Linked DNA regions of Homo sapiens. The protein of the gene in region 1 purifies or fractionates together with the protein of each later gene. This does not show direct contact. Each region holds a gene or a part of one and is shown in the gene's direction. Other genes may lie near its edges. The genes, in order: OCA2, TMEM59L, RCC2, LTA4H, ATIC, AHCY and HMGCS1.

Evidence for each region.
Region 2: the proteins of OCA2 (region 1) and TMEM59L purify together in Homo sapiens (affinity purification with mass spectrometry; one large-scale study listed by BioGRID and IntAct). This does not show direct contact.
Region 3: the proteins of OCA2 (region 1) and RCC2 purify together in Homo sapiens (affinity purification with mass spectrometry; one large-scale study listed by BioGRID and IntAct). This does not show direct contact.
Region 4: the proteins of OCA2 (region 1) and LTA4H purify together in Homo sapiens (affinity purification with mass spectrometry; one large-scale study listed by BioGRID and IntAct). This does not show direct contact.
Region 5: the proteins of OCA2 (region 1) and ATIC purify together in Homo sapiens (affinity purification with mass spectrometry; one large-scale study listed by BioGRID and IntAct). This does not show direct contact.
Region 6: the proteins of OCA2 (region 1) and AHCY purify together in Homo sapiens (affinity purification with mass spectrometry; one large-scale study listed by BioGRID and IntAct). This does not show direct contact.
Region 7: the proteins of OCA2 (region 1) and HMGCS1 purify together in Homo sapiens (affinity purification with mass spectrometry; one large-scale study listed by BioGRID and IntAct). This does not show direct contact.

What each region holds. Positions count from the first base shown.
Region 1 is NC_000015.10:27,754,375-27,757,345, reverse strand, and holds the end of OCA2 (P protein), read left to right. Parts: intron 1-1,873; coding exon 1,874-1,958; coding exon of another isoform or gene 1,959-1,987; 3' UTR 1,988-2,471; downstream 2,472-2,971. UniProt on the Homo sapiens protein: Contributes to a melanosome-specific anion (chloride) current that modulates melanosomal pH for optimal tyrosinase activity required for melanogenesis and the melanosome maturation. One of the components of the mammalian pigmentary system.
Region 2 is NC_000019.10:18,618,705-18,621,539, forward strand, and holds the end of TMEM59L (transmembrane protein 59-like precursor), read left to right. Parts: intron 1-1,703; coding exon 1,704-1,832; 3' UTR 1,833-2,335; downstream 2,336-2,835. UniProt on the Homo sapiens protein: Modulates the O-glycosylation and complex N-glycosylation steps occurring during the Golgi maturation of APP. Inhibits APP transport to the cell surface and further shedding.
Region 3 is NC_000001.11:17,419,178-17,422,677, reverse strand, and holds part of RCC2 (protein RCC2), read left to right. Parts: intron 1-386; coding exon 387-475; intron 476-1,849; coding exon 1,850-1,964; intron 1,965-3,500. UniProt on the Homo sapiens protein: Multifunctional protein that may affect its functions by regulating the activity of small GTPases, such as RAC1 and RALA. Required for normal progress through the cell cycle, both during interphase and during mitosis.
Region 4 is NC_000012.12:96,022,088-96,025,587, reverse strand, and holds part of LTA4H (leukotriene A-4 hydrolase), read left to right. Parts: intron 1-1,040; coding exon 1,041-1,109; intron 1,110-3,336; coding exon 3,337-3,441; intron 3,442-3,500. UniProt on the Homo sapiens protein: Bifunctional zinc metalloenzyme that comprises both epoxide hydrolase (EH) and aminopeptidase activities. Acts as an epoxide hydrolase to catalyze the conversion of LTA4 to the pro-inflammatory mediator leukotriene B4 (LTB4).
Region 5 is NC_000002.12:215,322,059-215,325,558, forward strand, and holds part of ATIC (bifunctional purine biosynthesis protein ATIC), read left to right. Parts: intron 1-3,182; coding exon 3,183-3,271; intron 3,272-3,500. UniProt on the Homo sapiens protein: Bifunctional enzyme that catalyzes the last two steps of purine biosynthesis.
Region 6 is NC_000020.11:34,289,856-34,293,355, reverse strand, and holds part of AHCY (adenosylhomocysteinase), read left to right. Parts: intron 1-848; coding exon 849-998; intron 999-1,824; coding exon 1,825-1,937; intron 1,938-2,417; coding exon 2,418-2,625; intron 2,626-2,717; coding exon 2,718-2,805; intron 2,806-2,906; coding exon 2,907-3,024; intron 3,025-3,500. UniProt on the Homo sapiens protein: Catalyzes the hydrolysis of S-adenosyl-L-homocysteine to form adenosine and homocysteine. Binds copper ions.
Region 7 is NC_000005.10:43,296,413-43,299,912, reverse strand, and holds part of HMGCS1 (hydroxymethylglutaryl-CoA synthase, cytoplasmic), read left to right. Parts: intron 1-937; 5' UTR 938-947; coding exon 948-1,395; intron 1,396-1,778; coding exon 1,779-1,904; intron 1,905-2,746; coding exon 2,747-2,911; intron 2,912-3,500. UniProt on the Homo sapiens protein: Catalyzes the condensation of acetyl-CoA with acetoacetyl-CoA to form HMG-CoA, which is converted by HMG-CoA reductase (HMGCR) into mevalonate, a precursor for cholesterol synthesis.

The sequences.
Region 1 (2,971 bases):
ATACAGCAGATATTCAGTAAGTCATTTACCTACTAATGGCAGGTTGCCATTGTTATGATTTATCCATGTCCACAGGGAGGCAGCATATGTAGTGATTAGGAGTACACACTCTTAATCACTCTTAATCACACAATCTAACTAGAGTTAGACTGATGCATTTGGATTGTCACACCAGAGCAAACTAGCTGAGAGACCCAGGCAAGCCTGCTTACCTCTCAACATCCCACCTCTGCAGTAGGTGTGATGATGCCAATTCCAGAAGGCACTGTGGGCAGTTGAGAGGGTCCTGTGCATGGAGAGTGTCACAGTGACTAGGTGTTGTGAGGGAGAGTAGGGTTTCTGATGGGTCTGAGTGATTGCATCAGTTCTGGGTGAAATGAAAATGTTTGGTGATGCTAGGTGATGCTCCTTCTCTGCGTTGGTGCCATCCTCAAGACATCAGTGGCTCTCACTTGGGAGCACGGCAAAACCACCCACCAGGAACTTTCTCCAGTCTTGGGCTTCTCAAGCAAGGTCTGCTTTTTGTGGAATTCACCCCTTGGCAGGCAAATTTGCTTCTAAAACATGGCCAGGTGTCTCAGCACCCGGATTGAGATTCTCGGCATCTTACCTGACACTGACTCACTCTACACAATCTGTCACAGAGGAACGAAGGCTTTGTGCTTCCATGAAGGCTTGCAGTGATGTCTGTGATGCCTGGAGTTGACCAGACACTGTCGTGGGTTGTGTTTTTCCAGAACTCAATGATCAGGGCTGACATTTTGCAAACATGTTCAGCTATTTTCAAAAACAAAGTTGATAAAGTTCAAGAAATTTAAGTAGTTTTCCCAAAATATGTTCTGTGTTTCTTTTTGTTTGTTTTGTAAAATAAAATGTGTTCAGAAGAGAAGCCAAGAGAATCCTACCACTTTCTTGAAATGCCCAAGTCTACTCTATAATTTCGGGAGCTGTCTCGCTCATGGAATCAGTTTTTGTGTTTAATTGTAGCTCTGTTGAGGAACCCTTGCTGTGGCTCTTTCTGAGTAGCCTCTTCCTACACTTATGGCCAGGGAAGAGAGAATGTCTTTATAATTGCCACATGCTAGGCTCTTACTGCTAAAACTTAAGCCTTTTGAAACCAAAATTGTAACATTTGCAGGGGCTTCCCTTAGTGACCAGGCAGCACTGAGCAATGGCTACAGAGCGTGCATTACCCATGCCAAGTGGCATCTGTCAGTGCCTGGAAGCTGGGGTAGGAATTTGTGGAGATGTGTGTACATTGGAGGAGGCACACAATGAGGGATGCTTCTCTCTTCTCATGACTGCTTTTGTATCTGTGCATACCCTCCTTGTCCACACGTCTCACACCTCACCGGCTACAGAAGAAAAACTTCTTCTTCCCTTTGCCTTTCCTTAGACAACAGTTGGCCTTAGTTTCCAACACTACTTATCAAGCTCTCCTTGGCCTTAAGTGTGAGGGACTTCAGGAGCCTGCTGGAAGCTGGGATCTCTGGGAAATCTCCAGAGAAGAAAAGTTGGAAGATGACACAAGTAGAGGAAACATCCAGAGATTTAAATGGTGGCCCAGCACATGGCATTGAAAGACCAACAGTCTAATATAGATGAACAAACAGAGGCTCCATATAGCCATTAAAAATTTGAGAAAACCTTAAGCAGTTCTCAAATAAAATTGCACACAATGGAGGATGTCTAATAGAAGCATGCATTCACATAATTTAGTCTAAAACTAACTTCCTGATTTATGGAAATAAAAGGTAGTGGCCATTGTGAAAATGCAAAGGTGCTAAGGCCATGTTCTCATGAGCTATGAGTCCGTATCTCATGAGATTATCCAGATTTCAGATGCCATAACTCATTTCTCTTTGTATTTCAGGCTGGGCTTCCCAATGATGGTTGTGTCCTGCACTGTTGGGATGTGTTATCTCCTTGTGGCTCATGTGGTGGTGGGATGGAATTAATAGACATCCATCTATTGCTCGAAGACTAAAGGAAACTTCATCCATCACAACCCATTAGTCATAAAACTACCCTGACCCCACTGTTTGAAGAAGAAAAGGTGCTTACCCTGGAGATGCTACAGAGACACAGTGGAATAGACCTTGACACTAACACTCTAATTCAAGCGAATGTTGGAACACCATGACCTCCTCTGTGTGTCCTTTCTCCCCAAGGACAAAATGTAGAAAGATGTGAGATAACTTACTCAAGATTCCCCTCCAGAAAAATACGTATGTTTAAAAACCCTTCCTGCTATACATAGGAAAAGACACACATCCACCTAAAATTGACTGTACTGTTTAACTGTCAATTCTCCTGAGGCTAAACACAGTTTGTTTTTCTTGTAATCACTTTTCATGTTAAAATAATCAGCATTCAAATTGTATGCTTTCTGAATATAGACTTTCTGGGAAAAGGTTTACTGCTCGTAAGGAAACATTTTATGTATTAAAATAAACTGTTCCTTGATAAAAGGCTTTGGAGTAGTTTACATTATGTAAAATTGCATTTTATCCATTTATATTTTTCTCTGCAGTTTTAAAGTTATTAATTAAAAGTCCAGAAATTTGACTTGCAGAAGATCATAGGTATCTTTTAAGGATATCTTACATATTTAACAGCTTAGAGTAATGATTTTTCCATTTTGCAAGTGGTGCATGCTATTTCCATCAATTACACAGACGTACACTCGATACCCTCAGTCCTGCTCTCCCTGCAGGACGCTGTGGCTCAGTCGGTGTTTATTAAATGCAGTTCTTTTGTGAAGCATTCCTTGTGAGGTAAGGGTAATGAGAACAAAGACCAAGGGGGAGCCCTGTGCTTCCTGCGAGGTCTCCTCTGCTCTGCCTCATCAGTATCATGGCTATGCCCCAGAGGAAGAAGCCCTTCTTCAGTTTCTGATCTTCTGTGCATGACACCTTGGAATGAAAATGGGGACACTGCTCCGAAGTGATTGTGTGTCAAGCGTCTGACT
Region 2 (2,835 bases), on another chromosome or scaffold:
TTTTTTTTGAGATGGAGTCTTGCTCTGTCACCTGGGCTGGAGTGCAATGGCACCATCTCGGCTCACTGCAACCTCCACCTCCTGGGTTCAAGCAATTCTCCTGCCTCAGCCTCCGAAGTAGCTGGGACTATGGGCGCGGGCCACCACACCCAGCTAATTTTTGTATTTTTAGTAGAGACGGTGTTTCACCATGTTGGCCAGGCTGGTCTTGAACTCCTGACCTCAGGTGATCCATCCGCCTCTGCCTCCCAAAGTGCTGGGATTACAGGCGTGACCCACCGCGCCCGGCCTATATATATATTTTTGAGACAGGATCTCACTCTTTCACCCAGGATGGAGTGCAGTGGCATGATCACAGCTCACTGCAGCCTCGGCCTCCCTGGCTCAAGCAATCCTCCTGCCTCAGCCTCCTGAGTAGCTGGGACCACAGTCACGTGCCACCATGCCCCGCTAATTTTTGTATTTTTTGTAGAGATGGGGACTATGTTGCCCAGGCTGGTCTTGAACTCCTGGGCTCAAGTGATCCACCTGCCTTGCCCTCCCAGAATACCGGGATTACAGGCATGAGCCACCTCACCCAGCCAGGACCTCACACTTGCTGCATGACTTGGGCCAGTTTCTTCACTGCCCTTTGAATTGGTGGGAAGAAAATCCACTCTTAGTTGGGGCGACATGAAGTCAGAGGTGGCCACACTTCTGTGGTGTTGGCCTCACCTCTATCATGCCCAGGTGTGTTGGTGACACCTCTGTGGTGCCCAGAGCCTGGGCAACATAGTGAAACCTTGTCACTACAAATCATTTAAAAATTAGCTAGATGTGGCTGGGCATGGTGGCCCATGCCTGTAATCCCAGCACTTTGGGAGGCCGAGGTGGGCGGATCACGAGGTCAAGAGATTGAGACCATCCTGGCTAACAAGGTGAAACCCCATCTCTACTAAAAATACAAAAAATTAGCTGGGCGTGGTGGCAGGTGCCTGTAGTCCCAGCTACTCGGGAGGCTGAGGCAGGAGAATGGCGTGAACCCAGGAGGAGGAGCTTGCAGTGAGCCGAGATCGCGCCACTGCACTCCAGCCTGGGTGACAGAGCGAGACTCCATCTCAAAAAAAAAAAAAAGAAAAAAAAAATTAGCTAGACGTGGAGGTGCATGTTTATGATCCCAGCTACTTAGGAAGCTGAGGTGGGAGGATCACTTGAGCCTGAGAGTTCGAAGCTGCAGTGAGCTGTGATGGCACCACTATACTCCAGCCTGGACAACAGAGAAGACCCCATCACACACACACACACACACACACACACACACACACACACACACACACAAAAGTCCAGGTGTGGTGGCTCACACCTGTAATTCCAGCACTTTGGGAGGCTGAGGTGGGCAGATCACTTCAGGAGTTCGAGACCAGCCTAGCCAACATAGTGAAACCCCATATCTACTAATAATACAAAAATTAGCTGGGCGTGGTGGCGTGCACCTGTAGTCCCAGCTACTTGGGAGGCTGAGAAAGGAGAATCGCTTGAACCTAGGAGGCGGAGGTTGCAGTGAGCTGAGATGGCGCCACTGCACTCCAGCCTGGGTGACAGAGAGAGACTCTCTCAAAAAAAGAAAAAAAATAAAACAATCAGAGGTGGGAAGGAGACAGTCAGGGTTGGGGGCTCGGCCTCTCCCCGTCCCTCCACTTCCCTCCTCCCCTCTCTTCCTGCAGCCTCTGACCCTGGAGCAGCACAAGGGCTTCATGATGGAGCCCGATTGGCCCCTGTACCCGCCGCCGTCCCACGCCTGTGAGGACAGCCTACCACCCTACAAGCTGAAGCTGGACCTGACCAAGCTGTAGGCCTCCACTGGCCCCATCACTGCCAACTGCAGGGGGCCCCTCGGGCCTCACTTGCCCTGAGCCCAGGAGTCCAAGGGCAGGGTGGGTCCAGCCTTGAGCCCCTCCACCCCCAAATCCTTCCTCTCCTCCCAGTCCCACCCCTTGCCCCACGGAGTCCTGGGGACGCAGTGCCCCAGCTGGGAAGAGGGCGGGATCGGGCACTGGTTCCTCCTTGTCCCCGCTTTCTTGGGGGCTTGCTACTTTTTGTCTTCTATTGTGTGGCTTTCTGAGTATTTGAACCCCAGTCCTGTGTCACCTTCCTTTTTCCTTCTATGTCCCCTCTCTGCGGGGGGGGCGCTGAGGCTGAGGGGGAGCTGCGTCTTGCTAGGGCTTCCCCCTTCTCCCCATCCCGGTCTCCAGAGACCCAGCTTCTGAGAGACAGGGTGTGGGCATCTCCATGCCCCTATAAAGCGTGCCTGGGGCTTGTCTGGGGCTGGGGAGGAATAAACCATGTATATAAAAGAGTTTCAGGCTGAGCCTGCTTCTGTTCGGTTGTCTGTCTGCCCTTGGGGTGTGGCCCACGCATGGCTATGACCCCTGCCGAGCAGGATCTTTCTGACATGGGAAAGCCCTGGAAACCCAGGTGGCACCAGGCACTGAAAGTAGCTGCCTCTCAGAAGGACACTCCCTCTGGTCTAACCCAGGTCACACTCCCAGCTACAGATGTCCCTGGAAAACTGACTCGAGGCCAGGCGCAGCAGCTCATGCCTGTAATCCCAGCACTTTAGGAGACTGAGGCAGGAGATTCACTGGAGCCCAGAAGTTCCAGACCGGCCTGGGGCAACATAGCAAGGCCCCATCTCTACAAAATACACACACACACACACACACACACACACACACACATATATATATATAATTAACTGGGTGTGGTGGCTTGAGCCTGTGGTCCCAGCTACTCGGGAGGCTGAGGTGGGAGGATTGCTTGAGGCGGGGAGGTGGAGGCTGCAGTGAGCTATGATTG
Region 3 (3,500 bases), on another chromosome or scaffold:
CTCAGTTTGGCAAGAGGCCAGGTGGTCTGCCTTGGGGATGGGGCGTGGGGTGGTGGAGTTCCCCTTGTGACTCTTGGTCAGGATCAGAAAGAGGCCCTGAGAACCTTGGCATGGAGTGGCTTCTTGAGGGCATTGGGAGCCTCCCCAGTGGCCATAGGAGGCCCATCTGGGAGTAGGAGACGCTGCCCTCTGTTTCTCTGCACACCCAGTTTCTGATGTGAAATGGCTTTGCTGTGAAGCGTCTGCACTGCCAGCTTTTGGGCAGTCTCACTTGCCTTCTGCCTGGCAAATGAGCTGTTTTTATTATTTTGATGCCTTTGATTCTAAATCTAGTTCAAAACATTCACCATTATCTTCCCTTTTGTGATATTTTTCCTTTCTTCCAGAAACGGGCTCCGTGTTTGCGTTTGGGGAAAACAAGATGGGGCAGCTGGGCCTTGGCAACCAGACAGACGCTGTTCCCAGCCCCGCGCAGGTGACCCCTCCTCAGCTCCGGCTCCATGGCTTTTTGTTTCTCTTTACTTTTGTGTTTGATTTTCTAAGGTGGGGTCTCCGTTTGAGTTAATTTACCCCTTGTAAAAACAGGGTCTGGATGTTTAGTTACATGCTGTAGAGTTTTTTTGTTTGTTTTTTTGTTTTTTGTTTTTTTTTGAGAACGGAGTTTCACTCTTTTTGCCCAGGCTGGAGTGCAATGGCGCAATCTCGGCTCACTGCAACCTCCGCCTCCCGGGTTCAAGTGATTCCCCGGCCTCAGCCTCTGGAGTAGCTGGGATTACAGGCATGTGCCACCACACCTGGCTAATTTTGTATTTTTAGTAGAGACGGGGTTTCTCCATGTTGGTCAGGCTGGTCTGGAACTCCTGACCTCAGGTGATCCACCCACCTCGGCCTCCCAAAGTACTGGGATTACAGGTGTGAGCCACTGCACACAGCCTTGCTATAGTTTTTAAAACAGGCTTAGTTTGTGGTCGGGTTGAAAACCATCCTGAAAACATTTTGTTTCCAAATGGAGAAATCTGTTAGAAATGCCTTGTCGTAAGCCTGTTCTGTTCCAAAGAAAGTGAGTGATGTTATATGGATGTAATTGTACTTCCCCCAAATACTTTGTTTTGACCTTGTATAAAGTCACCAGCCAGATGCTTAGAATACAAATACGAGATAGGCAGTCTTTTTTTTTTGGAGGGGAGACAGAGTCTCGCTCTGTTGCCAGGCTAGAGTGCAGTGGCGCGATCTCAGCTCACTGCAACCTCTGCCTCCCGGATTCAAGCGATTCTCCTGCCTCAGCCTCCCGAGTAGCTGGGACTACAGGCATGCTCCACCACGCCTGGCTAATTTTTGTATTTTTAGTAGAGATGGGGTTTCACCATGTTGGCCAGGATGGTCTCCATCTCTTGACTTCCTGATCTGCCTGCCTCGGCCTCCCAAAGTGCTGGGTGTGAGCCACCGCGCCCAGGAGATAGGCAGTCTTTTTTTTTCTAAGAAACTTGAGTTGGAGGGGTGAGATTTATACCTTAAAAACAAACTACTACTAAAGGCAGAAGAATGCTAAGTGCCTAATTAGTGGTCTAGGTGATGAAGGAAGGGAGGGACTTGGTTTTATTGATCTTAAAGAGACAGTGGCTAGGCTTTGAACTGCTCTGTGCTGGGAGGGTGGGGGTCTGAGGGTGCTTCTTTACATATCTTCTAAGCTTTGTGTTCTAGAAATGCCTTCAGCTTTTGCCTTCAGAATTACTGAGTTTATTAAACTTCCGTTTGTAACCTAGTAATTGTTTCCCACCAACATGCAGAGAGGTAGAGGCTTTTTATCAGTCTTTAAAAAAAATGAAAGTCTCCTTTCTTGTCTTTTCAGATAATGTACAACGGCCAGCCAATTACCAAAATGGCCTGTGGGGCTGAATTCAGTATGATAATGGACTGCAAAGGAAACCTCTATTCCTTTGGGTGCCCTGAATATGGTCAGCTGGGTATGGAAGTACATTTTTTAAAAGCTCTGTAATCTAACTGTATATATTCAGAACTAGAGATCAGTGTGGGGCTGCACACACGTGTTAGAAATGTGGGTAATTGATCTCAGATAATAGCCTTTGTCCGTTAAGTGGATCTCACGTTCAGCAGAACAGCGCGTCCTCATTCACAGGATTATGGAGTATTGCAACACTGCCTCAATGGAAAAGTTGGGACTGGAGTCCTACAAAAGATTTCTTTTTTTCTGATTTGGGAATTCATTTATATAAAGGGATTTCAAAGTTAAAAAAAAATCAGACCACCTTCATTCAATTTCACATTTAAAGATTATGCCTTTATTGAAAATGAGAAAATTACGGAAAATGAACGTTGTTCTGGAAACCCTGGCCTGGGCGATTATTTCGGGTTGCCACGTGAGGAGCCCTGGTGGACCCCCTCCCCGTGCGTCATCCCTAGCCAGAATCTAGTTGTCCAGAAACTTGTTTCTTCGATCTCATTGGTGGAAAAGGAGAATTCAGGCATCAGTTCTCAGTTAGTGGGGGGAGTGTCTTCCGACCTGATGGTCTCCATTCTCCTTCCCATCGGACCCTAAGTGCGGTTCCCTGAAGTGCGCTTCCCGGTTGTGGCTCTGCCTCCACTCCAGCCCCTCTGGGGAGGCCTCCGCGAGGTGTGGCGCGGGCGCCCTCTGCTGGCCGCGCGCGCTCCTGCAGCCGCAGCGCCTGGCAGATGGAAAAGGTAAAAATAGCGCCGAGCCCGCTGGCCTTAGCCTCGGGGAACAGTGACTTTGTGAAACTAAATATACTTCAAGTCAGAAGTGAATAAGAGAGAACAGCCCCTTACGCACATTTCACATTTCGCGTTGGTTGCCGTGGTGGAGCCCGAGACAGTTGGAGAGCGGTTTCCATGGCCACAGCCCTGCTGCGGTGCCCAGCAGCGGTCCGCTTCCTGCCACGTGCGCGCTCCTGCTGCCTTGGCCTCCCCTCTGCACCCCGGCAAGTCGATTTTCCGTCAGGAAGCATGACATGCTGTTGGTGATAAAAACGGCTCACTTTCATGGAGCAGTGACTGTGTGTGCCAGGCACCATGTAAGCACTTTGTACAAATTCGCAGGTGCTCAGTTACACTCAACTTGCAGGTAGTTTGGAAATCGGCTTGATTTGTAGCTACAGAATCGCTTATTCTCAGCGTATTACTTGCTTTAAGGCAGGTGTTTGTTTCGTTGTCCAAATCCAGATAGATCACTTTTAGAATGAACCTAAATCCGACTATGGCCGTGTCTCATCCACACACACTCATGCCTTGTGCCCCCTTTTTTGCAGTGCACTGAACTGGGCTGGGCAACGCCAAGATAAGAAAGACGGAGTCTCCCTCTGTCACCCGGGATGGAGTGCAGTGGTGTGATCTCAGTTCACTGCAACCTCCACCTCCTTGGTTCAAGCAATTCTCCTGCCTCGGTCTCCCAAGTAGTTGGGACTACAGGCGCCCGCTGCCACACCCAGCTAACTTTTTTTTGTATTTTTAGTAGAGACGGGGTT
Region 4 (3,500 bases), on another chromosome or scaffold:
AAGTGCTGGGATTGCAGGAGTGAGCCACGGCACCTGGCCTGTGGTCATACTGGATGGAACCAATGTTAATAACGATTGGTGTGGCAGTACAGAAACACTTTGCATATGATATGAATGAATATGTCTAGATGGTATTGAAAGAGACTGTTCTTTCTCCCTTCTTTGCTTCTTTGTTTTACTTACAAGGTTTGCTGCAAGATTGAAGTGTCAGGATTACAGCAACATTTCTCAGGCTGTGTTCATTAGAATACTGACATCCCATTAGGTGTTAAACCAGAGAGAAATGGGTTTTGTGTTAACATAAATGTAAGAAATCAAACAGGTTTCTTTATTGTAGGTCTGTTCAGAGCCTTCAGGCGGCTAATATTCTAGTGGCTCTGCAAGACAGTGGTGCAGTATGCCATACTTCTCAGGTCTGTTTTGCTACAGAGCCCTTTTTTCTCAGGTTTCTAAAAGCTTCTCACTGGGCACTACTGTCACCCAGACCATAGAGTAGGAAACACTGCTTAAGAGTTTCTCCATGCTTCAACTGAAATGTGAGGGTTAACCATAGATTAAAATGGAAAATCTGATTTTTAAAAGTCCAAGAATCTATTTTTGGACTTTAAAAGATCCCAAAAGGCCAGGCGTGGTGGCTCACGCCTGTAATCCCTGCACTTTGGGAGGCCGAGGTGGGCAGATCACCTGAAGTTGGGAGTTCGAGACCAGCCTGATCAACATGGAGAAACCCCATCTCTACTCAAAATACAAAATTAGCTGGGCGTGGTGGTACATGCCTGTAATCCCAGCTACTCGGGAGGTTGAGGCAGGAGAATTGCTTGAACCCGGGAGGTGGAGGTTGCAGTGAGCCAAGATCATGCCATTGAACTCCAGCCTGGGCAACAAGAGTGAAACTCCGTCTCAAAAAAAAAAAAAAAATCCCAAGAAATGAGGACTGTTTTTATTTTAATGTCTAAGAACAATGCTGCAATTTTTAATGATTTCTTAATGACTTATGCGAAAGATAAATAGCTATTTCTTCTTGTTTCTCCCTTTTTCAGGCCATCCACTGCAGAGCAATCCTTCCTTGTCAGGACACTCCTTCTGTGAAATTAACCTATACTGCAGAGGTAAATATTACGAATTATTAACTCAATTAAATGATGCATATCAGTAAATATGGTATAAATGATAAGCAGAGATGATAATTGAATTCCTAGAGCTAGAATTATTTTTCTTAATGAAATTCTACCTGAAATATGTAAACAAAGAGGCTGTGGCACTCATTCTGAATCTCTACTTTAAAGGCAGTTTTAAACATTTTAACTGTGAAAAAAAGGAAATGGAAACCAATCTGACTTTTAAAAAGGAATTCAGGGCTAGGTGTGGTGGCTCACACCTGTAATCCCAGCACTTTGGGAGGCCGAGATGGGTGGATCACGAGGTCAGGAGATCGAGACCATCCTGGCTAACATGGTGAAACCCCATCTGTACTAAAAAAAACACAAAAAATTAGCCGGGCATGGTGGCGGGCACCTGTAGTCCCAGCTACTCGGCAGGCTGAGGCAGGAGAATGGCATGAACCCAGGAGGCAGAGCTTGGAGTGAGCTGAGATGGCACCACTGCACTCCAGCCTGGGCGACAGAGCCAGACTCCGTCTCAAAAAAAAAACCCAAAAAACAAAAAAACAAACAAACAAAAAGAAGAAATTCAGAATCCTGGATCTAGAAATAAGAACTTAGGAACAATTTTTACTTAACTTTTAAAAATTGACATTTGCATGATTTAAGTTTCTATAAATGCATTCTGTAGCCATATAAGCCTAGTGGGCATATATTCCAGACTTGTCTGTATGCAATTCCAACTTATTCCCTTGGTAGGTACTGCTAATCCTTTTTGGAAAAGGCGGACTGTAATTACTAAATAATCACTATCCCGGAGGCTAGACCTACTTAGACCAAGCAAATAGAATGAGGACCAACCCATATTTATGGGGCCTTCTTGCTTCCCAAATCATCCCACAACCAAATTACATCTAGGATAGTGCAGTGATATATTATACTTGGAGGCAAAGAATCCCAGGGCTCTGGCTCTTCTCCACCACTTAATAACTGCGTGAAGTCCCAACTACTTGGGAGGCTGAGGTGGGAAGATCACTTGAACTCAGAAGTTCAAGGCCAGCCTGGGCGACATAGCGAGACCCCATTTCTAAAAAAATAAATAAATAATGATGTGACACTTGAACAAGTTTTATGACCTCGCAACCTCAGCTGGCACATATATATAACGTATCACCACCTAAATGAAGGGAGGTGGCTGAACCGAATTATTTCCTGAATAGTTTTGTGCTTTAGAATCTACAATTGTTGTAGCACTGGTTCAGGAACTTCTAATTCTGTGCCTGCCTCAGTCACAGCTTTGGGTCCTGAGCCATGCAAGAAGAACATGAAAGTCTAGCCCCTACTGGAATATATTCTTGTTTGATCATTAATACTTGGGGGAGTCCTTTATTCTGGCATTCATCAGAAATCAAACTTTCAGAATCATGGAGCTAGGATACACAGTTAAATGACTATATGGTTTGCCGCATAAGGGTCTTTTCCGTATGGATTTCCAGAGAAAATTATTTGACAGTTTTTAGCAATAAATTTTAGTTTTTCACAGTTACTACTTTTAAAATGTTCCTCTATTTGTAACTCCAAGTGTGTGTTTTCAAAACAAAATTGTTCAAAACCATTCTGTCCTACAGTGAGTATATAACGTCCTTTTGAATCTGTTTTGTGAGTGTAGCGGGAGCAGGGATGGTGGCTGCCATTGCCAGGGATGGTGCTGGGCTCTTCACTTATATTATTTATTCCTTGCAGCAAGCCTTTGAAGTTTTACACTTACTTGATGGGGAAACTGAGGCTCGGGGGTTATATTTATTTGCCCAAGTTTGTGCAGTTAGTTATTAGGTGGCAGAGCTGGGATTTTAATCCAGTTTCTACCAAAACTCTGCTCTTAATGTGCATGGGTGAATGGATAGAAATTTCACATTCACTTTTAAAGAAGCCAGTTTCCCATATTGCTAATTTTATTTACAAAACTGATATGTATATGTGTATATATATACTTTTTGTATATGTGTTTTATATATATACACATATATATGTGTGCATATATATACACATCTATACACGTTGTGTTCATATATATGTGTGTGTATATATATACTTTTTGTATATGTATATACTTTTTGTGTTCATAGTCTGTTTATTAGATAGTCAAGAATGGGAAGAAAAGGTTATTTTACATATATGGTTTAAGACACATAGAAGCTTTTATTTATGACTAGAAATGATTTTTCTCCTTGATTAGGTGTCTGTCCCTAAAGAACTGGTGGCACTTATGAGTGCTATTCGTGATGGAGAAACACCTGACCCAGAAGACCCAAGCAGGAAAATATACAAATTCATCCAAAAAGTAAGATCCTAGGGTCTAGATTTTTGTTTTCATTGGCGGTAAACTACAGTTAGCTTGTA
Region 5 (3,500 bases), on another chromosome or scaffold:
CTTGGCTAATTTTTTTGGATTTTTAATAGAGATAGGGTTTCACTATGTTGGCCAGGTTGGTCTTGAATTCCTGACCTCGGGTTATCTGCCCGCCTTGGCCTCCCAAAGTGCTGGGATTACAGGCTTGAGCCACCATGCCCGGCCCACAAAAGTTTTTAATTTTGATGATGTTGAATTTATTTTTTCTTTTGTTGCTTGTGTTAATGGTGTCATGTCTAAGAAACCATTGCCTAATCCTCAGTGATGAAGATTTTTGTGTATATTTTCTTTCTTTTTTTTTTTTTTTTTGAGATGGAGTTTCGCTCTTGTTGCCCAGGCTGGAGTGCAGTGGCGTGATCTCGGCTCACTGCAACCTTCGCCTCCTGGGTTCAAGCGATTCTCATGCCTCAGCCTCGCAAGTAGCTGTGATTACAGGTGCCCGCCACCACGCCCAGCTAATTTTTTTGTGTTTTTAGTAGAGACGGGGTTTCTCCATGTTGGCCAGGCTGGTCTTGAACTCCTGACCTCAGGTGATCCACCTGCCTCGGTCTCCCAAAGTGCTGGGATTACAAGTGTGAGCCACCGCACCCGGCGTGTGTACATTTCTTTTAAGAGTTATTTTAGTGTTAGCTCTTATACTTAAGTCTTTGGTTCATTTTAAGTTAATTTTCATATACAGACATGAAATAGAAGTCTTATTTTATTTTGTATGTGGCTGTCTAGTTGTCTCAGCATCATTTGTTGAAAAGACTGTTCTTTGCCCAATCGAATGGTCTTGGCACCCTTGGTCCATGTGCCTGCTGTTATGCCAGTACTACACTATTACTATAGGCTGGTAACAAATTTTGAAATCAGCAAGTGTGAGTCCTCCAACTTCATTTTTCTGTTTTTTGTTTGTTTGTTTGTTTTGTTTTGTTTTGTTTTTGAGACGGAGTCTGGCTCTGTTGCCCAGGCTGGAGTGCAGTGGCGCGATCTTGGCTCACTGCAAGCTCTGCCTCCCGGGTTCACGCCCTTCTCCTGCCTCAGCCTCCCGAGTAGCTGGGACTATAGGCGCCCGCTACCATGCGCAGCTAATTTTTTTGTATTTTTAGTAGAGACAGGGTTTCACCGTGTTCGCCAGGATGGTCTCGATCTCCTGACCTCGTGATCCGCCCGCCTCGGCCTCCCAAAGTGCTAGGATTACAGGCGTGAGCCACTGCGCCCGGCCCCAACTTCGTTTTTTTTATTCAAGATGACTTTGACTCTTCAGAGTCCCTTGCATTTCCACATGATTTTTAGAATCAGCTTGTCCATTTCTGCAAAACAACGCAGTTGGAATTTTCATAGGTATTGTGTTGAATCTGTAGATCAATTTGGGAAATGTTACCATCCTAAGAATATTAAATCTTCCAGTCTGTGAACATGGGGTGTCTTTAATTTCTTTAACATTGTCTTGTGAAGTAGAATTGTTTTCTTAATTTTTTTCTCATTCACTGCTAATGTATATTTTAATACAATTGATTTTTATATATTGATCATATATCCTGCGGCTTTGCTGAACTCATTTATTAGTGCTAAAAGGTTATTTTTGTGAATTTGGGATTTTCTGTATACTAGGTGGTATCATCTGCAAATAGATATAACTTCACTGCTTTCTTTCCAGTCCTGATGCCTTTTATTTTCTTTTCTTTGCTAATTGCTCTGGCTAGAACTTCTAGTACAGTGTTCAGTAGAAGTGGTAAGAATGGACATTATTGTTTTGTTTCTTTTTTTTAAGATGGCGTTTTGCTCTTGTTGCCCAAGGCGGAGTGCAGTTGCGTGATCTTGGCTCACTGTGACCTCCGCCTCCCGGGTTTAAGTGATTATCTTGCTTCAGCCTGGGGTTACAGGCATGTGCCACCTTGCCTGGCTAATTTTGTATTTTTAGTAGAGATGGGGTTTCTCCATGTTGGTCAGGCTGGTCTTGAACTTCCAACCTCAGTTGATCCATCCTCCTGAGCCTCCCAAAGTGCTGGGATTGCAGGCGTGCGCCACCTTGCCCGGCTAATTTTTGTATTTTTAGTAGAGATGGGGTTTTACCATATTGGCCACGCTGGTCTCGAACTTCTGACCTCAGGTGATCTGCCTGGCTCAGCCTCCCAAAGTGCTGGGATTATAGGCATGAGCCACTGCGCCTGGCCTCTTGTCTTGTTTCTGAGTTGAGTAGACAAGTATTTTAGTCTTTCACCATCAAGTATGATGTTAGCTGTGGGTTTTTCTTACACTTTGTCATGTTCAGTAAGTTCCCTTCTATTTTTAATTTGCTGAGTGTTTCTATATGAATACCTGTTGAATTGTGTCAGATCCTTTTTGTACATCTATTGAGATGATCAGGTGGTTTTTGCATTTTTCTGGATTCAGTTTGTTAGTGTTTTGTTGAGAGTTTTTGTGTGAAGATACCTAAGAGATACTGGTCTCTAGTTTTCTTGTGACATTTGTCTGGTTTTAGTAGGAGGGCAGTAGACTTAATAAAGATGAGCTGCAAAATGTTTCCCCTCCAATTCTGTTCTTCTGTTTTTGTTTTTGTTTTTTTTAATTAGTTTTCAGCAGTTAGGCTTGTTTGGAGCCTGCCCGTAGAGCTCCTCGCACTACAGGCCTAGGAGTGGAACTGTACTTCACTGATTGTTAATTTTAGATTACTTCTGTATTTTAAATTATTCTTTTGGCATTCCTGTTACCATCATTTTTATGACCTCTCTGAAGGCAAAACAAATGTTTCACCCTTAGAATGCTCTGATATTTTTCATCATTGTGCCAATCCACTGGAAAAAGAATCTAAATTCTAATGTTCTGGATAATAGTGATCACATTCCAAAATGAGAATGTTATCTGTAATCTTGTACTTTATACTTCTATTAAAATGTTCTATAAATTTTTCATGGCTTGGTGGTTCTGGGTAGCTAAGGTTATGCAAGCAGCAGCGTTGCAGTGTGACGTGGAGGGAGTACTGTGTATTCAGATCCGGGGAGCACCTGCTGACTAAATTACCTCTGCTCGACCCCAGCAGGACACCCTGACTTTTTAACACACTCGTTAGAATTCTAAAATGTCAGGCTCACAGTTTATATATTAGTTCTCTATGGCTTTTGTTTACGTTAATAGTACTGACTTGTTTTTTTCCTAGATAGCTGTAAACCACATGAGTGGACTTTTTAATGACAGCCAGATTCGTCTTTGTTTTATAGAGTTGTTGCCTGCAATCTCTATCCCTTTGTAAAGACAGTGGCTTCTCCAGGTGTAACTGTTGAGGAGGCTGTGGAGCAAATTGACATTGGTAAGTCAGAAAAACCATTTTAGAAGACTGAGAGGAGAGGATTATTTAAATTTTAGTGAGATTTCATTTTGAATTTTATTACTGAGGAAATAGAAAGAAAATAGCTACTTCTGGATTGTGTTTTGGGATTACTATAATTCATTTATATTTTCTTTTTTTCATTTATATTTTCTAAGCTTTTTTTGTATGCAGAGATGCATCTGGGTTATTTTCCTGATTTATTTATTTA
Region 6 (3,500 bases), on another chromosome or scaffold:
TGGCTCTGCTTGGCCAGCGTCCTTTGCTCACAAGAGGCTCCTGGGAACCCCACACCTGTGCCCTAGTCATGCCACATGGGAGGAGTGTGGGCTGGTGGTCAGTAGCCCTCAGTTCTGGTGTCTATTCTGGAATTTCATTTAGAGTGGCCCAAGTGCGTCTTAGCTCCTCTCTGGGCATCTGTAAGTGATGATAATGGTCATGGCTGCCTCACAGGGTTTCTATGAGGAAGAATGAGATGGGGTATGGAGGATTTAGAGTCATGTCTGGCAGAAAGCAAGTACCCCACACATGGTAGCTGCTCGTAGTCATTTTTTGGCCAGACTTTGCCTGAGATTCCCCCACACAGAGGCTGCTAGTGCTCCAGTCCTTTCAGTGCAGAGCAAACCCTGGATCCTGCCGTGTGGATCCTGCTGAGGGGGAGGCGTTGTGGGGTATCAAGCCCTGGTCACTCAGGGTTGATGCCTCAGTCCTTGGCGCCCAGGCAGAAGGGGATGGGAAAGGAAAGAATGATTTCCTGATATCTATATCTGGGGCGGGGGGCTGTACATGGCTTCTGTCTCACTTAATCCATACTATTGTGAGCCCTATTTACAGAGGAGAAGACTGAGGCTCAGAGAGGTGAAGTGATTTGCCCAAGGTCACACAGCTGGCAAGTGGCAGAGCCAGGGTTTGAACTCAGATCTATCTGGCTCCAAGTTGTGTCCTGACCACTGCTGAGTTTTCAGAGGGGCCGGAGGTGGCTGGGGATGGGAGTTGGGAAGGAGGTAGTTTTGGCTCTGCCAGAGTTGTTCCCTGGAGCAGGTACCAGTTGGGAAGTCCAGGCCCTGATGTGCCACTCACCCTCCAGTGTATGCCTGGAAGGGCGAAACGGACGAGGAGTACCTGTGGTGCATTGAGCAGACCCTGTACTTCAAGGACGGGCCCCTCAACATGATTCTGGACGACGGGGGCGACCTCACCAACCTCATCCACACCAAGTACCCGCAGCTTCTGCCAGGTGAGCAGGGCGGGGCAGGTGGGCTGGGTGCTGGTGGCCTGGGTGGGGCCTGTTTGCCCACATGATGGCCGCAGGCCTGGCAGGACTCCCATCACCTCAAGCAGCAGGATCTGGAAGATGGGAGGATGGCAGGCTCTGGCATTCATGCTGGGGCCTCCTGACTTCTGAGGGTGCGAGGCTAGGGCAGCTGAGCTGATGGCCCAAGGGCAGGCACAGACAGGGCCATGGTTGGGAATAGCTGGGAGGGAGCCAGCTTTGTTCAAAGCAGGTACGCAGAGTGCAGAGGCCCTGAGGCAGGAATGGCTGGAGTGTTCAGGAAACAGAAAAGAGGCCCACAGGATAGCAGTGAGCAAAGGGAGCCTTCACTGCGGGTATGGTGTGAACTTCGTGAAGACCAGATGTGTCAGGGCCTAATAGGCCAATAGAAAAGTGTTTGACCTGATTTGCAGAGCAAGGGGAAATAACTGGAGGGCGTTGAGAAGATTTCTCTGAGAAGATACATGTTAGAAATGGCTGCTGCATGGAGGATGGGTTGTGGTAGGGAGACTGGGAAGAAGCGACAGGGTCACGGACTAGAGCAGCGGCAGTGAGAATAGAGAAGCTGGGAGTTGTTCGGAGGCAGAGTCACTAGGCCTGGTGGTGGCTTCCCTGTAGGAGGGCGTTGGGGACTCCTCCCTCACGCGGGTCTGGGTGATTGGGGGGCCTGTGGGATCAGTCACAGAGATGGGAACCCAGAAAGAGGAATGGCTTTAGGGGGTAAAGATGAGGAATTTGCATGAGCACAGGTGTGGCATCTCTGAGGCTTGTCCTGTCCCCTCTTGTTTAGGCATCCGAGGCATCTCTGAGGAGACCACGACTGGGGTCCACAACCTCTACAAGATGATGGCCAATGGGATCCTCAAGGTGCCTGCCATCAATGTCAATGACTCCGTCACCAAGGTGAGCCGAGGGGCAGTGACAGCTCCCGCTACAGTGGCTGCAGCTCAGGACGAGGCCTCTGAAGAAGAGTGCCCAGGAAGGCTGAGATTAGGGACATGAAGCCCTCATTTGAGGGGGCAAAAGCGGTTATAGACAGGCTAATGAGTGCGTTTAAAAGGGGTGTCAGAGCTGGGTGTTAGGAGCTTTATGGCTTTGGGAAGAAGAGCTTTCAAGTTAAGCAAGGTCTTTGACCGGGCAATCTCTCCTAGTAACTGATGCCTAGGAAGGCTCCACACTGGCAGAGAAAGATTAGAGAGAAGCTCTTTGAGCCGATCGGGGTGAAGGGCTTGTGGGGGCATTGGGTGCTGGAGGGGTTCAGCCCAGGCCGGGATGCTTGGTGGGCCCATGATGCCTGGGCTCTTCAGAATACTCTGAGGCCAAGTTGTCCTGGCCCCAGGGCCTTGCCTGCCCCTATTGTCTCCTTACCCCCTTTCCTTTCAGAGCAAGTTTGACAACCTCTATGGCTGCCGGGAGTCCCTCATAGATGGCATCAAGCGGGCCACAGATGTGATGATTGCCGGCAAGGTAGCGGTGGTAGCAGGCTATGGTGATGTGGGCAAGGGCTGTGCCCAGGCCCTGCGGGGTTTCGGAGCCCGCGTCATCATCACCGAGATTGACCCCATCAACGCACTGCAGGCTGCCATGGAGGGTAGGATAGGGCAAGGGTTGGTTGTCAGCCACTGGGGCCAGAGGGAGGGGCAAGGCCACCGTAGATGACCCACAGCCACTGTCTCTGCACAGGCTATGAGGTGACCACCATGGATGAGGCCTGTCAGGAGGGCAACATCTTTGTCACCACCACAGGCTGTATTGACATCATCCTTGGCCGGTAGGTGCCAGATGGGGGGTCCCGGGGAGTGAGGGAGGAGGGCAGAGTTGGGACAGCTTTCTGTCCCTGACAATCTCCCACGGTCTTGGGCTGCCTGACAGGCACTTTGAGCAGATGAAGGATGATGCCATTGTGTGTAACATTGGACACTTTGACGTGGAGATCGATGTCAAGTGGCTCAACGAGAACGCCGTGGAGAAGGTGAACATCAAGCCGCAGGTGAGAAGCTCCCGCCTTGCCAGTGGGCTGGGCAGATGGGAGTGCAGAGGAGTGCTGGCTGCCAGGGAGGAGAGCTGAGGAGATGGTGGCAACCTGTGCAGGGGGATGGGGAGAAGAGGGCCTAGCATCAGAGCCAGCCAGACGTGGCAACCTTATCCTGTGGGCAGCCGGCATCCCTGAAGGTATCAGGCAGGTGAGCTGTATGTGGTGAGGCTGTAGTTTTAGAAAGATCACTCTAGCTACTGTGTGCAGAATAAAAGCAACAATGGCGGGTGGTGGGGAGAGAGGCTTTTAGAGGAGGCTCGTAGAATCCCTGCAGGGGATGATGGCAGCCTCAGCTTAGGGAGTGCTGGGGTGGATGGACGGCATGTGGGGTCAGGATGGAGGCAGAGTAACAAAGGACACAGCTTTGGCCGGGCATGGTGGCTCACACCTGTAATCCCAGCACTTTGGAAGGCCGAGATGGGCGGATCACC
Region 7 (3,500 bases), on another chromosome or scaffold:
CATTAAAACTCCCCTCTGTTTGAAATATCTATAGTAATTTTTCTTTTCCTGACTAATACAACCTGTTAAAGAAGCTGAAGCTCTGGTAAGTTAAATGCCCAACAATGGTCTTGAGTAGCTAGTGATTTTTGTTGCTATTGGTAAGTAAATCTAGACACTACTTTTTAGTCCCTTTTTTAAAAGAGGACTGGTTTATCTATGATGAATACATGATTGATTGATTGATTGATTGATTGATTTTTACTTTTTCTTTTTTTTTTTTTGAGACGGAGTCTTGCTCTGTCACCCAGGCTGGAGTGCAGTAACATGATCTCTGCTCACTGCAAGCTCCTCCTCCCGGGTTCACGCCATTCTCCTGCCTCAGCCTCCTGAGTAGCTGGGGCTACAGGCATCTGCCACCACGCCCGGCTAATTCTTTTGTATTTTTAGTAGAGACGGGGTTTCACCATGTTAGCCAGGATGGTCTCGATCTCCTGACCTTGTGATCCGCCTGCCTCAGCCTCCCAAAGTGCTGAGATTACAGGCATGAGCCACCACGCCCGGCCTAATTTATTAAAACTTTCGGGTGGTCAGGTAATTCTGATTTGTCAGCCATATTTCTAAATTATCATTGTATTTTATCTTACAGTTCTTTACAATGTAGAAAATCTTATTTGAGTGTTGTTTACCTCTAATAATCATGTTTTAAATCTAGAGATGCCCAATTTTGAATAAAATGGAAGCCTTTCTAAAAGACTATAATTTTAAATGATAATATTCCATTCATATAATAATTGCTACTTCACATGTACACAATTGAGTGCCCTAAATACTAAACTTAAAGAAACTAATACTTCAGGTGATTGCTAAACTCTTAATATCTATTTCTCAATTTCAAAGTTGAAAACCAGCAACTTATAACCTAAAACAATTTTTTTTCTGTTTCTCCTTTCTAAAGCTCTTTCACCATGCCTGGATCACTTCCTTTGAATGCAGAAGCTTGCTGGCCAAAAGATGTGGGAATTGTTGCCCTTGAGATCTATTTTCCTTCTCAATATGTTGATCAAGCAGAGTTGGAAAAATATGATGGTGTAGATGCTGGAAAGTATACCATTGGCTTGGGCCAGGCCAAGATGGGCTTCTGCACAGATAGAGAAGATATTAACTCTCTTTGCATGACTGTGGTTCAGAATCTTATGGAGAGAAATAACCTTTCCTATGATTGCATTGGGCGGCTGGAAGTTGGAACAGAGACAATCATCGACAAATCAAAGTCTGTGAAGACTAATTTGATGCAGCTGTTTGAAGAGTCTGGGAATACAGATATAGAAGGAATCGACACAACTAATGCATGCTATGGAGGCACAGCTGCTGTCTTCAATGCTGTTAACTGGATTGAGTCCAGCTCTTGGGATGGTATGTTACATGCCTATTCCCCGCCGTCCCCCAAAATTTTTTTCTAAGGTTCAATAGACCCAGATGACACTTTAATTAATGCAATACGCAAACTTTTGTAATTTGTCCTTGTTTGGATATATTAAGAAAGATATTTTACCTGTCTGTCATTATCCGAATTGTGAATTGGTTATCTTATCTTGTAGGACAAATGGTCTATTCAAAATTTAGTCAGATGGATGACAGAGCCTTGGCAGATGAATTTTAAAAAAAAATTAGAGCATTTTCTTTCTTTATCAAAGAAGGGAAAAGCATATTCTGGGGAAAATATAACAGACTTCAGTTTCCATGTTTGGTTATAGTGTTGAATTCCTTCTTGTGAAATAACAAAAAATATTTTTCAGGACGGTATGCCCTGGTAGTTGCAGGAGATATTGCTGTATATGCCACAGGAAATGCTAGACCTACAGGTGGAGTTGGAGCAGTAGCTCTGCTAATTGGGCCAAATGCTCCTTTAATTTTTGAACGAGGTAAGTGCTTGGGAAAGCATTTTTGTTTTTTTTAGCACAATATGCTGAGAAATTTGAAAATAGAAGTAGGAGCTGTCGCTTACTTAATGGTCATTAAATGCAGGTACTACTTGCTAAGAGCTTTATGTGTGTTATCATATTTATGTTTTTTTTTCTTTTTTTTTTTTTTTGAGACCGAGTTTCACTCTTGTTGCCCAAGCTGGAGTGCAATGGCACGATCTCGGCTCACTGCAACCTCTGCCCCCAGGTTCAAGTGATTCTCCTGCCTCAGCCTCCTGAGTAGCTGGGATTGCAGGCACACACCACCATGCCTGGCTAATTTTTTGTATTTTTAGTAACAGGGTTTCACCATGTTAGCCAGGCTGGCATCGAATTCCTGACCTCAGGTGATCCGCCCCCCTCAACCTCCCAAAGTGCTGGGATTACAGGCGTAAGCCACCATGCCTGGCCTGTATTTAATCTTCATAGCAGTTTTATGAGGTAGGTGGTGTCATCCCCACTTTACAGAGAAGTGGGTTAATGTAGGGTTCAAATGATAAATAGTAACTTGCTGATAGTCACTGGCAATTTTAATTTGTCTTCAGTGTAGTAGAGTAACTGTGAACTGTTAGAGTTATGAAACTGACATGGAAAGTTGTATACCAAAGGAGTCTTAGGACTGTCCATGGATACTGTTATGTATCATTTCACTTATATTGGCTTCAGCTTGCGATTTCTCTACTGTAAGTGGTGAGAATTGATCAGATAGTTAAGGAAGGTCCTTAGATAATGCAGTATACTTATTAACATACAGACATCAAGAAGCAGAAATATATAGACATCTTCCTTTTTGGTTCTAATAGGGCTTCGTGGGACACATATGCAACATGCCTATGATTTTTACAAGCCTGATATGCTATCTGAATATCCTATAGTAGATGGAAAACTCTCCATACAGTGCTACCTCAGTGCATTAGACCGCTGCTATTCTGTCTACTGCAAAAAGATCCATGCCCAGTGGCAGAAAGGTAAGTTTTACCCATTTTCCTTGGTTTTGGTATGAGTTGAGAGCAGTCTAATGTACTAGGTATCTTTGGTAGGCAACTACTTTGTGGGCATTCTTCATTTAATATCCTTTTACCATTAATTCCTCATTCACCAAACAACATTTTCCCATAGTTTCTGGGAAAGTGTAATTTACTAGAAGAGGTAAACTTTGGAACTGAGGTGTATCTCTGCAAAAATATTTAGGTCGGTTTACCCCTTGTAAGAAAATCAAAGTGGAGAAAAGAAGGTAAGTTGAATTTTGTTCATCTTTTGAGAGAGGTATTTTAACAAGGTTTTGGACTACAGCTGTGATTCAGGGAAAGCTAATGAAAATGAATTACTAAAGTGATCTTACCCCAAAAATAATCTTTTTGCACTTGACCTGTGAATTTGTATTTGTTTTTTTACTGTTATCATTAATCTGGAAATTTGTTGAGGCACTGAAAGGACAGTATTTGAGTTAATGCTATCATAACACATTATTACATAAAGTATACTTTTTCTGTAGTCCAACTTTGCTTTTTAGAGGTTATGAGAAGGGGTTAAAAATCATATTCAATGACAAATATC